Linked DNA regions of Homo sapiens. Changing the gene in region 1 together with any one later gene gives a genetic interaction. Each region holds a gene or a part of one and is shown in the gene's direction. Other genes may lie near its edges.

Region 1 (4,683 bases):
TGCAGTGGCGCCATCTCAGCTCACTGCAAGCTCCACCTCCCGGGTTCACGCCGTTCTCCTGCCTCAGCCTCCCGAGTAGCTGGGACTACAGGTGCCCACCACCACGCCCAGCTAATTTTTTTGTATTTTTAGTAGAGACGGGGTTTTATCGTGTTAGCCAGGATGGTCTTGATCTCCTGAACTCGTGATCCGCCTGTCTCGGCCTCCCAAAGTGCTGGGATTACAGGCGTGAGCCACCGTGCCTGGCCGCAAATGTCTTATTTCTAATTGCTATCAGATCTGGTACCAAAGGAGAATTTGGAGAGCTGGCTAAATTATTTGAAGAAAGAATTGCCAACAGTGGTGTTCAGAGCCTCAACAAAACCAAAGGATAAAGGGAAGATAACCAAGGTATCCTTTATTAGTGGTAAGAAATGTGATTCTTTCAGATTTTGGTTGAAATATGATGAGTGTACAAAATCTTGATTTAAGTGAATGAAAAATTACAAGATCCAACTCTGATTTCAGCCAGAGATCATCTGAAAGGCAATGTAGTTATCTTAAGAGCTGGGCTCTGGAGCCTGATTGCTTGGGGTTTGTTGAAATTTATCAGGTAAGTTGCCAGAATAATTCAACTATTTGGAATTTTAGCGTGTGAAGGCAAAGAAGAATGCTGCTCCATTCAGAAGTGAAGTCTGCTTTGGGAAAGAGGGCCTTTGGAAACTTCTTGGAGGTTTTCAGGAAACTTGCAGCAAAGCCATTCGGGTTGGAGTAATTGGTGAGTTTCAGTTCATTACTTTTTACTTTTTAAGTGTTGAAATAGTTAAGAAGTTTAGCCAGCTCTCCAAGTGCCCAAGCAGCAGTGTATGGAGTTGTTGTCAAGTAAAAGGCTCACTCAAATACTAGCTTCTTGCTTATACCTTACTGAAAGCACATAACCACACACAATTTAAAGAAAAAAACTTACACAACTGCTGCCAGATTCAGGTTTTTTGTTGGGACTGATTACTGTAGGAAGCTGGTTTCTAAAAGTTCTTGGTTTGTTTGAATTTATAGTATTTTCCTGCCTTTGCATTACTTGTGCAAGAAATGAAGAAACTAAAATTGGTCTTAGTATTGAAGTGAAGACACTGAGATCCAACTCTGATCTTGCCCTAAACATCAGGGAAATGGAAAATTAGGCAGTGAAAATTTCATAAGTGCCAACATATAATGCTTTTTATATCTGGATTTCCCATTTATTTGTAGGTTTCCCAAATGTGGGGAAAAGCAGCATTATCAATAGCTTAAAACAAGAACAGATGTGTAATGTTGGTGTATCCATGGGGCTTACAAGGTAAATGGAGGTGTCCATAATTGTAATATTATAGTGACACACTATTTTATTTTGGTTATCTCAAGGAAGGTGATTTTTTTTTTTTTTTTTTTTGAGACAGTTTCACTCTTGTTCCCAGGCTGGAGGGCAATGGCGCAATCTCGGCTCACTGCAACCTCCACCTCTCAGGTTCAAGTGATTCTCCTGCCTCAGCCTCCAGAGTAGCTGGGATTACAGGCATGTGCCCCCACGCCCGGCTAATTTTGTATTTTTAATAGAGACGGGTTTCTCCATGTTGGTTAGGCTGGTCTCAAACTCCTGACTTCAGCTGATCTGCCCGCCTCGGCCTCCCAAAGTGCTGGGGTTACAGGCCAAGCCACCGCGCCCGGCCTATTTTTATTTTTTAAAGCTTTTGGTGAAAGCAGAGATTTAAGCCAGTGCTAGAACTGATTGGAGTGGGACAGCTGCCCACAATTTAGTTTGAAAGACAAGTTCAGCAGATAGATTGAGAGAGAGGAAAGCTCCCTCAGAGGAAGTGATGTTTGAACCTGGCCTTGAGAAATTAATAGAAATTTGCCAGATAGAAGTCTGCCACCACACCTGGCTAGTTTTTGTATTTTTAATAGAGATGGGGTTTCACTGTTGGCCAGGCTAGCCTCAAACTCCTGGCCTTAAGTCATCCACCCGCCTAGGCCTCACAAAGTGTTGGGATTACACTTGTGTTGGGTGGCATGAGCCACTGTGCCTGGCCAACTTTTAGATTTTTTTTTTTTGGGAGATGGAGTCTGTCTCCCAGGCTGGAGTACAGTGGTGCTATCTTGGCTCACTGCAACCTCAGCCTCCTGAGTAGCTGGGATCAAAGGCACCCGGCTAATTTTTGTATTTTTAGTAGAGACAGGGCTTTCATCATGTTGGCCAGGCTGGTCTCAAACTCCTGACCTCAGGTGATCCACCCACCTCGGCCTCCCAAAGTGCTGGGATTACAGGCGTGAGCCACCGCGCCCAGCCAGAAGGTGGCATATTTATAGCAAAGGAAATAGCATGTGTTTTGGTTGATGTAAATATATAAGCTATAACATGTAGTGTTCTCTTTAGAACAGTCGGGTATGCTGTTACAGTTTTAGATAAATGTGAAGCAAATGATGATAAACTGGATCTGACTGACTGTGCTGAGTCTGTTCAATCCAACCCTGAGCTTCATGTTCTGTCTCTTAACCTCCAAATAGACCAATGCCCCCATCAATTCCATCGCTCTTCTTTCAGGAGCATGCAAGTTGTCCCCTTGGACAAACAGATCACAATCATAGATAGTCCGAGCTTCATCGTATCTCCACTTAATTCCTCCTCTGCGCTTGCTCTGCGAAGTCCAGCAAGTATTGAAGTAGTAAAACCGATGGAGGCTGCCAGTGCCATCCTTTCCCAGGCTGATGCTCGACAGGTAAAAGGACCCCTTCTCATGAGCTCCTTGGAGCCATCTTCTTTCATCATAAGCATTTTGAGTAGAAAAATCTTGGAAGTGTTTTAAAGTACTGGCATGTCAGATGAAGGACAGCTCCTTTGTTTGGTTTTTTTTTTAAGGTAGTACTGAAATATACTGTCCCAGGCTACAGGAATTCTCTGGAATTTTTTACTGTGCTTGCTCAGAGAAGAGGTATGCACCAAAAAGGTGGAATCCCAAATGTTGAAGGTGCTGCCAAACTGCTGTGGTCTGAGTGGACAGGGTAAGCTTTCTTTTCTGTTGGCATTTTGGTGACCACTAGAATAAACCTTCTTTTGACACATCTTATTTTTAATATCAGTGCCTCATTAGCTTACTATTGCCATCCCCCTACATCTTGGACTCCTCCTCCATATTTTAATGAGAGTATTGTGGTAGACATGAAAAGCGGCTTCAATCTGGAAGAACTGGAAAAGAACAATGCACAGAGCATAAGAGGTGAGAATTGTGTGTCGCTGCTGTCTTCATCAGCTGACAGGCCAGTGGAGCTCTTACCTGTTTACATGGGCTTGCTTTCTTTCCCAGCCATCAAGGGCCCTCATTTGGCCAATAGCATCCTTTTCCAGTCTTCCGGTCTGACAAATGGAATAATAGAAGAAAAGGACATACATGAAGAATTGCCAAAACGGAAAGAAAGGAAGCAGGAGGAGAGGGAGGATGACAAAGACAGTGACCAGGAAACTGTTGATGAAGAAGTTGATGTAAGTGTGTCCTCCATGAGTTAAAACTGAAGTGAGTTTTCTAGCATTATAATACATAATGGAAGGAACTGAAGATAGGAAATATTTGAGGCTTGTGATCCATTAGCCTTAATTTTGCACATCCCGTTATATGTACCTCCAAAGAGTTAATTTTTCAGGTACATAACTACTTGGATTAAATGAGCAGACAAGGGCTACTAATCCAGCACTATTTTTCTTTGTCACACAGGAAAACAGCTCAGGCATGTTTGCTGCAGAAGAGACAGGGGAGGCACTGTCTGAGGAGACTACAGCAGGTGAGGCAGGCAAAAGGGGTTCTAACGAAGCAGCATGGTATAGAATCACTTTTACTTTTTGAAAATCTCTTTATTTTCCTGCAATATAGGTGAACAGTCTACAAGGTCTTTTATCTTGGATAAAATCATTGAAGAGGATGATGCTTATGACTTCAGTACAGATTATGTGTAACAGAACAATGGCTTTTTATGATTTTTTTTTTAACATTTTAAGCAGACTGCTAAACTGTTCTCTGTATAAGTTATGGTATGCATGAGCTGTGTAAATTTTGTGAATATGTATTATATTAAAACCAGGCAACTTGGAATCCCTAAATTCTGTAAAAAGACAATTCATCTCATTGTGAGTGGAAGTAGTTATCTGGAATAAAAAAAGAAGATACCTATTGAAAAATGTAAGTTTTATTTACAGATCAGGCCACAGGTTACAAAATTAAAACCAACAGCAGTTTTGAATTATCTGTACCAGCTAGCTGAACTAGCCATATCAGTTCTTCTTTCCAGTCATTCAGCATTGTAGTAAGAAAACACTTGGTAAGGCAGATGGAGACATATTTATAGTCTATAGTCTGTCTGGGAAGCTGACTGCCAGACAGGGCAGTTTGTCATCTTTACCTAGCTGACACATCTTTTTCCATGGCTTGCTACCGATAGGCATTGAAGCCTAGCAACTGTTACTTCCCACGCATGCTATCTTCCAGGACTTCCTGAGAAATGCTTGCTTACAGTTCAAATTCTGTTTCACTTTATGTTTGAGATCTCGGTATATCTTCGGATTAGGTTGAATTTGCCTGTTGGGTCTGGAATATACCATTTTTCCCAAACATCAGTATATGAAGCAGTCCTTCCCCATGGCTTCAAATGTCCATTCCAATGGAGTAACTTGGCAGCCTT
Region 2 (3,649 bases), on another chromosome or scaffold:
TCTACCTCATTTCAATCTGTTCCAAGGTTCACTGCCACTGCCCCATCCCTTCTATTTCTTTCTTTCTATATCCTCCTATAATTCAAGGATTAACTGAAATCTAACTACTGTAGGGCCCAGGCTCTGGTTCCAGACTTCCTTAGGTCAAATTACTACACTTAACAGCTGTGTTACCTTGGACAAGTTACCCTCTCTGTCTCAATTTCCTTATCTATAAAATAAAGAAAATCCTAGTAATTTACCTCAAAAAGTTGCTCTGAGGATTTGTTACTAGTTCTTAATACATAGTAATATATGCAATTTTAATTATTTTAATCCATACTAATTCTTTAAACAGTGGTTGTACAATTTATCACTGTTTTTTGTTATCCATTATTCTCTGATGTTCTTTTCAATGTGAATCTTTACTTAAAAATTTGATTACTTTGAGAAGAATGTGTATTCTGAAAAATAAAAAAATATTTGGTTACAAACTATTGAAGGCAAAGACTGTATTATACTTCTTTTTGAAAGTCTCTTAAACCAAGGCTGGGTACAGTGGTTCATGCCTGTGATTCAGCACTTTGGGAGGCTGAGGCAGGCAAATTGCCTGAGCTGAGGAGTTTGAGACCAGCCTTGGCAACATTGCAAAACCCTGTCTCTACAAAAAATACAAAAAATTAGCTGTGCATGGTGGTGCACACATGTGGTCCCAGCTACTCAAGAGGCTGAGGCGGGAGGATTGCTTGAGCCTGGCAGGTGGAGGTTGCAGTCAGCTGAGATGGTATCACTGCCCTCCAACCTGGGTGACATAGTGAGACCCCCCTCTCAAAAAAAAAAAGTGTCTCAGACCTCTCAGGATGATTTGGGGGCTCAGTGTAATATTTTTTTCTTCCCATCTTACTATCTAGTTTTCTTTTTCTTTTTTGTTTTTTATTGTACTTTTGTAGCTTAGAGTTTTAAATTTAAACTCAATTTTGTTCCAAAAGTATTTGAGGTAGCTTAAACTATATAATATATAATAACATACAAAATAAAGAGAATCAAGATCATAAAAATATGAAGCTTGAATAGAAAGATGTGATTAGGGTGAGTTATACTGAAAATATACTGTGAATGTTGTAGAGTTATTTATTTATTTATTTATTTTATCTTTTTTTTTTTTTGAGATGGAGTCTCACTCTGTCGCCCAGGCTGGAGTGCAGTGGCGTGATCTCGGCTCACTGCAGGCTCCGGCCCCCGAGTTCACGCCATTCTCCTGCCTCAGCCTCCCGAGTAGCTGGGAGTACAGGCGCCCGCCACCTTGCCCGGCTAATTTTTTTTTTTTTTTGTATTTTTAGTAGAGACGGGGTTTCACCGTGTTAGCCAAGATGGTCTCGATCTCCTGACCTCGTGATCCGCCCGCCTCGGCCTCCCAAAGTGCTGGGATTACAGGCGTGAGCCACTGCGCCCGGCCTGTTGTACAGTTATTAAAGGTAGGCCACAAAGTTCCAAGCTTCATGGTGGTCAAAGGAAAGAAGGAAACATATTTATTGCCCAGCAAAAACAGCTTCCTGTGTTAAAATAATTAATTGGGAGGCCATTGCCTGAGGAAGCTCCAGTGCCCTGGGTTCCTACATAAACAGACTTACACCAAACTCAGTGTAAATGGTTGTATTCTAGGAAAATGAAACTTTAGCTTAACCAATCAGAAACCATCAACTAACCTCTAACCACTGACTTTTACTGGAATGATCCAAGTAAGGCTACTCCACTTTGACCAATCACAGATTTTCTTGGCCTTGCTTCTGCCGTTCACTCTTCAAAAGCCTTCTAACTGTGTCCTTTTGGTGCAGCCCCATATTGCTTGCATTCTGGAGCTGACCAATTCATTAATATGCCTAGTGTTCCATTATTGGAACGCTAAGCTTGTGGGAGTTATTTATATCCTGCTCATGGTCATCGCCAAGGTCTGATTTTTCACAAAAAAAATTTGCAACCTCCAGCATAAATGGGTTAACCATTGTCTGCTTAAATAAACATTTTCTTGTTTTTGTTTTTTGAGACAGTATCTTGTTGTGTCGCCCAGGCTGGAGGGCAGTAGTGCAGTTATGGCTCACTGCAGCCTCAATTTCCTGGGCTCCAGCTATCCTCCCACCTCAGCCTCCCAAGTAGCTGGGACTACAGGCATGCACCACTATGCCAGGCTAATTTTTGTATTTTTTTGTAGAGGCGGGATCTCACCATTTGCCCAGGCTGGTCTTGAATTCCTGAGCTCAGGCAATCCACCTGCCTTGTCCTCCCGAAGTGCTAGGATTACTTTGCCTGACCTCAAATAAATCCTTTAAAATTTTAATGTGCCTTGGTTTATCTTTTAGCACCTAGTAAATATTTAGTGAGTGAAATGGAGATTGTGATCACAGATTTTAAAGGATACGCTGAGGCCCTAGAGTTAAATTCTCTAGACTTTGTTAATTCCTTACCTACTTCCCAGTATTTCTCAAAGGGAGCTCTACTGGCATTTTTACAGACAACTCTTCACTGTGTGGGATTGTCCTGTACATTGTAGGATGTTTATTTTACCTGGTCCCTCAGCACTAAATGGCAATGGCAAACTCTAACTTCTTTTTAACAATCCAATATGATCCCATTTATTTCCAAGCAGCCCCTTGAAGAGCGGGTTCCCCATAAAGTTGGGAACCATTAGACCTTATTTGCCCATACTCTTCTCCACCCGAGCTATGCTCCATCCACTGACATTTGTTTTATTTTTAAACCTTGCATTCTTTTCAGACCCTGTCTTTGCAGGAGCTCCTCAATCTTTTTGGAGTGACTTTGTCTCCACCTGGTTGGCCCTTACTCAAATTTCAAAATTCATTTCTTCAAGAATTGAATTCATGTGTTCAGAACTCCAAGTTTTGGAGTCTTCCCCAGTTTTGCCAGGAAGTTTGACATTCTTTTCTAGGAGGACACTCACAGCAAGCACTAGGGTATTGTAGGTACTGAGTGAATGAATGAAAAACTTGTGGAAATAGAAGGCACATTAGTCTCATCTCTGAACAAAGACTTTTGCAAGAAGAAAAATTTAAAGGGAATGTGCCTTTCATTACAAAAATGTCCAACCATTTCCTTTTTTTATTTTCCAAAATAAAAATATGGCACTTGGTAGTATATTTTAAAGACACTTTGCTCTGTAATCTGTATTCAGACTGGCACTGATTCTGTAGCTTCTGATATTGTGTTGGTCTTTTTTTTTGAGGCGGAGTCTTGCTCTGTCGCCCAAGCTGGAGTGCAATGGCATGATCTCAGCTCATTGCAACCTCTGCCTCCCAGGTTCATGCAATTCTCCTGCCTCAGCCTCCCAAGTAGCTGGGATTACATGTGCCCGCCACCACGCCCAGCTAATTTTAGTATTTTTAGTAGAGATGGGGTTTCACCATGTTGGTCAGGCTGGTCTCAAACTCCTGACCTCAGGTGATCCATCCACCTTGGCCTCCCAAAATGCTGGGATTACAGGCATGAGCCACTGCTCCTTTCTGTCTCTTCTTATTTTTTGGATACTTTTGGCCAAGGATACCCCATTATCTCCTTATTTCCTAATTCTGGATACTTGGCATATGTGCTGACTAGAGTTTGTTGTACTAGTCCTACTACCCACTGTTCAAAGGCAGCAAGAGAGTTTGAGCTGTGG

The links. Genes that interact genetically often act in the same process or in processes that back each other up.
Region 2: of GNL3 (region 1) and ATG10, changing one suppresses a phenotype caused by changing the other (phenotypic suppression), as found in Homo sapiens cells (one large-scale study listed by BioGRID).

The regions. Positions count from the first base shown.
Region 1 is NC_000003.12:52,690,315-52,694,997, forward strand, and holds the end of GNL3 (guanine nucleotide-binding protein-like 3), read left to right. Parts: intron 1-277; coding exon 278-390; intron 391-423; exon of another isoform or gene 424-516; intron 517-630; coding exon 631-757; intron 758-1,063; exon of another isoform or gene 1,064-1,130; intron 1,131-1,227; coding exon 1,228-1,315; intron 1,316-2,421; exon of another isoform or gene 2,422-2,498; intron 2,499-2,557; coding exon 2,558-2,732; intron 2,733-2,872; coding exon 2,873-3,015; intron 3,016-3,093; coding exon 3,094-3,230; intron 3,231-3,317; coding exon 3,318-3,493; intron 3,494-3,722; coding exon 3,723-3,789; intron 3,790-3,878; coding exon 3,879-3,961; 3' UTR 3,962-4,183; downstream 4,184-4,683. Other genes in the region: GLT8D1 (glycosyltransferase 8 domain-containing protein 1), read right to left, coding at 4,531-4,683. UniProt on the Homo sapiens protein: May be required to maintain the proliferative capacity of stem cells. Stabilizes MDM2 by preventing its ubiquitination, and hence proteasomal degradation.
Region 2 is NC_000005.10:81,974,874-81,978,522, forward strand, and holds part of ATG10 (ubiquitin-like-conjugating enzyme ATG10), read left to right. Parts: intron 1-1,319; exon of another isoform or gene 1,320-1,454; intron 1,455-3,455; exon of another isoform or gene 3,456-3,649. UniProt on the Homo sapiens protein: E2-like enzyme involved in autophagy. Acts as an E2-like enzyme that catalyzes the conjugation of ATG12 to ATG5. ATG12 conjugation to ATG5 is required for autophagy. Likely serves as an ATG5-recognition molecule. Not involved in ATG12 conjugation to ATG3.